Homo sapiens: one gene and its partner. The protein of the gene in region 1 purifies or fractionates together with the protein of each later gene. This does not show direct contact. Each region holds a gene or a part of one and is shown on either strand. Other genes may lie near its edges.

The links.
Region 2: the proteins of NECAB1 (region 1) and RAI14 purify together in Homo sapiens (affinity purification with mass spectrometry; one large-scale study listed by BioGRID and IntAct). This does not show direct contact.

The regions. Positions count from the first base shown.
Region 1 is NC_000008.11:90,917,215-90,921,045, reverse strand, and holds part of NECAB1 (N-terminal EF-hand calcium-binding protein 1), read right to left. Parts: intron 3,555-3,831; coding exon 3,418-3,554; intron 1-3,417.
Region 2 is NC_000005.10:34,829,971-34,833,194, forward strand, and holds the end of RAI14 (ankycorbin), read left to right. Parts: intron 1-717; coding exon 718-795; 3' UTR 796-2,642; downstream 2,643-3,224. UniProt on the Homo sapiens protein: Plays a role in actin regulation at the ectoplasmic specialization, a type of cell junction specific to testis. Important for establishment of sperm polarity and normal spermatid adhesion.

The DNA of each region.
Region 1 (3,831 bases):
GACTTTGTCTCAAAACAAACAAACAAACAAAAAACTGGTGAATTTTTGTTTGCATCTTTCTAGCTTTTAAGATCTTTCTGAACCCCAGATGACTGTTAGATTGGTCTCCTCAGTGTTCTGGGTCCTCACCAACTGCTCCTGTGTAGCACTCCTTTCACCTAGAATTCCTTTCATTCATTCACTTTCATATGTTTACCATGCAGTTGTAGTAAGTAGAGGGGACTTATGCAAAGTCTCTGCCATCTAAAAACTCAATGTCTAATGGGGGAGATAAACAAGGAAGGGGCTGAGATAAGTAGATATAAATAGAGGGCACTATGGGAATACATGGTAATGAGGTGGGAAGTATAAATGAGCAGTGAAGGCTTCCCAGAGAAAGTACTGTCCAATCAGTGACAAGACAGACGAGGAGAAGTGAGCCAGATGAGAGATGGGTAACATGAGATGGGTGAGACGGATCCCTCTAGAGAGAATCTCATTCTGCCATTAAAATTCATCCTAAAGTTCCACTTCAAGTCTTGTCTTCCCATCAGGCGTTTTCACTGGTCTCTTGATTGACATCATAGGAAAGGTATAGTTTTTCTCTCTCTATCTTTTCCTCACTGATGAAGGTCCCAGGGCTCTCCTCACTTTTGGTGGCCAGCTGATAGGAAGATATAGCCTTGGGAGAGGAGACACAGTCCCTTTAGGTTTGGGCATAATTCACGTGCTTCAGTCTGGTTCATCAGATATTACGGGCATAAATCCATAGTGGTACCTTATTTTCTGTTTGCTTGTTTATGCATTTCTTTATAAACCTCTCAGGGGGAATATCACAGATTTGGGGTGGGATTTTGTCATTCCTGGGTGTCTTAGTCAAATGCCATACAACAGCACCCCTTAAACTGCAGTCAGACATGTAACATTTCCCATTATTTGAAGCTGTTTTTGAGTGAGAAATCCAGAAGTAAAAGGTTCGTTAATCCTCTAGTGCCTTCTACTTTCCTTAAAGTCTATATTGTCATGCTCCTTCTCATTAAGCACAGCTGCTAGGCAGCTGCTGGCAGCAGTCACAAGAGTTCAAGGCTAGCCTGTGGCCTAACACAGAAAACAGTTGTTCATTAAACATTCACAGCATGGTGGTAAATGCAGAGCACAGGTTTTCAGGGGATGACTGTAGAAAAAAACAAAAGCGCAGGTGAAGAAGGGGAGTAGAGCACTTTTTCAAGCCTCTTCTCAGGTGGCAGATGACTGATTCTAAAAAGGGAGTTCCCATTTTATTTCCAGAAAGTCCAAACAAAAGAAACAACACAGGAGGCCTCATTTTTCTCATTAGGAACATGAAATCCATTTCACTGTGCTTCAAGACATTCAGTTATCCTCTGCTCAAAGCTGAGGAGGTGGGTTTTGCTTTTCTAAAGTGAATTGTTATACTTTGCCATTTGGTATAGAATCACCCAACGCAGTGAAAACAGGAAGTTTATGATGTAGAGGATGCTTCACAGATCTGCTAAAGAGTACTTCCCTGTGACAGTCAGCTGCATGGGCTCATTAGATTCTGGAATTACAGGATTTTTTGTTAGAAGTTGGTGGTGCTCACTCATTTTGACATTGTAAACACATGGTTGAAAATTCCACTATTTTGGAGATGTCCTAATAATTATGTATCAGTTAATTTGTTCAGGAAAATTGGTCCTGCAGGGTAGTCTATTATCAGCCTGTTCAGAAAACTTACTGTTTCCTTCTCTCTAATTTAAGATGTAAAAGTTAGATAAAGCACATCTATAAGTTTAAAGTAACACATCTGCCAAAATATGCCCCAGGAGCAAGAGTTTTGCAAGCTTCTCTAGCTTGCAAAGTATAAGCAATGACAACTCAGAAAAATATCAACTGTTGGCTGGGATCACCTTGATGTGTGCCCTACACATTTTTAGTATAGGTGTCTCTTAAGCATTAGTGCCTTTATTTATATAGCTATTGCAATATGACTACTTATTTTCTCAGTGATACCTATTGGTGGCATTGAATTTTGAAATAATTTCCATCATTCACTTTTCTCCATTTCCTGAAATAATTAGGCTTACTGAATTATCAGGTCTCCCAAGTATATCCAGGTTCATGTAGTCTGTAAGGGTCTTTCCCATCATTTCCACATTTTCAAAATTACACCAAATTAACAAGGAAGGGGTTGAGATAAGTAGATATAAATAGGGGGCACTATAGGAATACACGGTAGTGAAGTGGGAGGTATGAATGAGCAGTGAAGGCTTCCCAGAGAAATTACTGTCCAATCAGTGACCAGACAACCAAAGAGAAGTGAGCCACATGAGAGGTGGGTAACAGGAGGTGGGTGAGACGGATCCCTCTAGAGAGACTCTCATTCTGCCATTCAAATTCATCCTACAGGTCCAGTTCAAGTCTTGTCTTCCCACCAGGCTTTTTCACTGATCTCTTGATTTTGCAAGACAAGCTCAAATAGAGAAACTCCATGAAATTGACTTTCTCATCCTTCCATCCCTCTATCCATATTTAATCTTTTAATATTCTGAAAACAATTGGCAATGTATTTCCTCTTCTCTACGGTATTTATTATCACTTTGTTCTTTGCAGTATAGTTTTTGTGTTCATGTCTTATTTATATGATAGACTTAGGCTTCCTTAAGGATTGACATTATGTTAAATGTATCTTTATATTATTCATAATACTTTAAAGTCTTCTCCATCTACTAAATTTTCAATTAAAATTTGTTGACTCAGCTGGGCTCAGTGGCTTACACCTGTAATCCCAGCACTTTGGGAGGCCAAGATGGGTGGATCATCTGAGGTTAGGAGTTCAAGACCAGCCTGATCAACATAGTGAAACCCCGTCTCTTCTAAAAAATACAATAAATTAGCTGGACGTGGTGGTGTGTGCCTGTAATCCCACCTATTTGGGAGGCTGAGGCACAAGAATTGCTTGAACCCGGGAGGCAGAGTTTGCAGTGAGCCAAGATCGTGCCACTGCACTCAAGCCTGGGTGACAAAGTGAGACTCCATCTCAAAAAAAAAGAAATATATATATATACACACACACATATATGTATATATATACACACACACACATATGTGTGTGTGTATATATATACACACATACACATATATGTGTGTGTGTGTATATATATACACACAGACATATATATACACGCACACACACACATATATATATATATATATATATATATATATAGTTTACTAAATGACTGACAGTAAAAGAAAAAGTAGAATGGTCTTTTTAGAGGCAAATAATAAGGCAAGCAACCAGTGGAGGTCACTGTCATTCTTTTTAAATATATCAATTCTCTTTTTTAGTTTTTGCTAGTGTAAGTACAATGCCTCTCAATTGTTTTTTCATGAACATAGAGTCACTAAATAGACATCAGATGAAAACATGTAAATTGCCTTTCTTGACGGGTTTGCTCCTCAGTAGTTTCCATGGCACATTCCAGGGAATTCTGGAGAGACTGCAGCTGATTCAGGGTTTCCTTCAATAAAAATCTAGTTACGAATTGTTCCAAATTGGAGGCTTCTTGGTAGTCCTAAGGGTGACAAAACAAATGCAATTAGAAGTATGGTAGAAAAAAATACCCAGGATTTTTTTTTTTTCTTTTACCATGTACCCATCAATCCCAGATTGATCCTAGAGAGAGAGGGTGGAGAGAAGGGAAAAGATCTGTCGAGCCCTGGAGGCTACAGCATCACTCTCATCCACCCACCAGGAGATGAATAAAAAAGCTGCAGAAATGACTGGAATATCTTGCCTCCCAATATACCTGCCTCAAGATTAAGAAAAAGGACAAAACCAGCAGAGTTGCA
Region 2 (3,224 bases), on another chromosome or scaffold:
GTGCCCTGTTTACCAGGAACAGCCCCATCTTTTAAAGCAGGGCCTCACTCTGTCATGCAGGCTGGAGTGTAATGGCATAATCTCGCCTCACTGCAGCCTCGACCCACGGGCTCAAGTGATCCTCCCACCTTAGCCTCCCAAGTAGGTGGGATTACAGGTACCCACCACCGTACCTGGCAAATTTTTGTATTTTTGTAGAGATGGGGCTTTGCCATGTTGCCCAGGCTGGTCTCAAACTCCTGAGCTCAAGCAATCCACCCGCTTCGGCCTCCCAAAGTGCTGAGATTACACGCATGAGCCACCATGCCCCACCCTCCCATCATTTATTGAGGAATGAGGGATGATGTGGTCCTCCACTGGGAAGACGGGGGCTTTATTTTCCAGCAATGCTGATCTTCTTAGTTACCAGTGCTGCCTTGGCTCTATGATGCTTGGTGTTCTGGCTGCTGGACTCACATTTGCAACTGAGACCCCAGATAGCTTTTGCTGAGGGTTTTGGTAGACACTGCCACCTCATCTTCCAGCTGGATAAAGGCAGGGCCCTTTCTTTGACTCAGTTCCTCATAGAAATTTGGGAAATGATAGGGCTGACATTCCTGTGAAAGATGTGGGAATTAGCCCAGGTCTTCATTGCAGTCAGCCATCTCATTCCCCAGAGAAGAAAGTGCCATGGCTTAATTTAGGTTCTAATGAGTATCTTGTGTTTGAATATCCTAGGGCCAGATGGATGAAGATGTCCAGAAAGTACTGAAGCAAATCCTTACCATGTGTAAAAACCAGTCTCAAAAGAAGTAAAGTGGATTCCTTGGCAGGACACTGCCCCTTGTCATCTGTCTTTGTGTTAGATCCAGAGTTGTCGGCAGCCGCTGCCATTGTTCTCATTCGTGGTATGCACTGTGGCCTAGCGTAGCTTCTTCCCTTTCCAAAGGTTTCTGAGGACTTCTCCCAGGAGAAGACTGCCCGCCTCAGAACTGCTTAGAGACTTCAAACCAGCAGAGGTGAAAGTCCCTGTCATCCCTTCAGATTCCAGAGCTGGGATCAGCCATGCCCAGAGGTCTGGTCCTGATGCTGGCAGGGGGGCCCCCTCCTCCATCCCTGACTGGCTGAGTGGCTTTATCACCACCGAGTGATGTGCTGAGGCCTCCTGCAGTGAATGCTCCTTCCATTCCTGTACTCGGGCAGTGCCATTCAGCACAGGAGAGCTCTTTTTGCCTTTGGCTTTCAATTCCAAAACATGATTTAATTTCTAACTAAATTAGTATGGCACTAGTTATGAAGTATCTGCTTAAAACCCTTCATCATGATATCCTGTGGATTTAAAAACTCTAATTCCATGTTTTCTTCCCATCTGCCTTATATATCTCATCACCCTGCTTATCAATATTCAGTTTGATGAGCACTATTAACTAAAATATGAAACTTAAAAACAAAAGCAAGTTGTCCTTAAAAGTTCTTTTTTTAAGTAAATTGTTGACATACTGCAAATTTTCTATGCAAACTTGCCTCCTGCTGTTATCTGTGAAGCTCAGGAAATCCAAACATTTGTGTTTCAACAAGGGACAGTAAACTGTGTGTTTACAGCCAAAAGAAATGCCTCATAGTTCTTAACCTCAACTTTTGTAGAAGTATTTTTTTCTCTGTAATATTTTTATTGGCTCATAAAGATGTTTTCATATCTGAACTCCTAAATAAGTGAAATTACAGTAGATTATATTAACAAAATACTTTTTAGGTAGCCATGCTTGAGACTTTTTAAAAATATAACTTTTTCCTTAAAGTTTTCAGCTATAGCAAAAGGTAGTTATGTATGCCAGACCTAATATGAGCTGCCACCAACACCCCTAGAACTTTCAGCCATGGTGTCTTCAGAATTGTAGCGCATTTCTGAATCTAGCAAATCCTCCTTTTACCCGTTGAATGTTTTGAATGCCCTGACTCTACCAGCGCCCATAAATGATCTCTAGAAGGACTGTTAGTACCAATCTGTTTTTCAACTTTGAAGCTAAAAACCCTGATATGGTAATATTATGGTGCATAGCAGAGGTCTCGGAAAAAAAATATTTCTGTTCACTTTACTTTCAGGTTAAAAATGTTTCTAACACGCTTGCAACTTCCCTTATGGCATTAATCTTGTTGAGGGAGAGAGACAGAATCCTGGACTCTCCAAAGTATTTAACTGAAAGTAGGGCCTGCTCTGACAGGGCCCATGTCCCACAAGGCTGCTTGGCCTCAGTGGGTGCTTGGCTGTGCTGGATGATATGTTGATCTGTATTGGATAAGGACCAATGACAGCAAAGCAAAAATGGCTTTAAAGCTTGGTGTTACTTTTCTTAAGTTGTTTAATTATAGTTAAGCAATTTCAAAAATGCTCCAAAGAAATGTGAAAGGACCTTTTGTCACAGCACTTCAGAAAATACACAACAGCCCCTTCTGCCCCCGCACAGAAATGCTGCAGAGTATATAAAACTTGAGACATTTTTGTAGGATGCCTGACGAGGTGTAGCCTTTTATCTTGTTTCCGGATGCATATTTATTACGAGTACTCTGGTTAAATATTGAAAAGTTATATGCTGTAGTTTTTAGTATTTTGTCTTTGTAATTTACAGAAGTTATTGGAGAAAATAAACTTGTTTCATTTTGCATTTCTGGTGTTGATTTTTGGTGTATTCAGAAGCATATCTGCGTGGCTTCTGAAGATCAGTTCAATAGCATTTCAGTGTAATAGGTTTTCTAGTCTGTGCTATGCTCAGCTGGTATGAGTTGTCCGCACTGTCTCACACAAAGTCTCACATCATTTCCTTTTCCCAGCTCTTGGATTCGCCCTGAGCTCTGCCCTGAGTATCAGCCGCTTTGGGGCAGTTGAATCACAGTTGCCTTTAATTCACAATTGCCTCTCATTTAATCTGCAGTCTGTTTAACTGTTTGGAAGCCTCCGCTGGATTTTTTTTCCCTCTTGCTTCTTGCTTTTTTTGAAAAAGTAATACATACATATGTAAAAAAAAAATCCAGATACATTTTCCTGCCCCATTACAAAGACAATTCAATTAATTCCTGACAAAACTCTTGTCAGGTGAATTCTGGCAAGGTTAAAATCATAATTAAAATTGTTGCAGGTTATAATCATAATCAAAATTACATGAAATAGGTACAGCTACTTAAGAAGTTAGCATTGTTTATCATACTCCAATGTAACAAGGCCATTTCCCTTCACTTACAACATGATT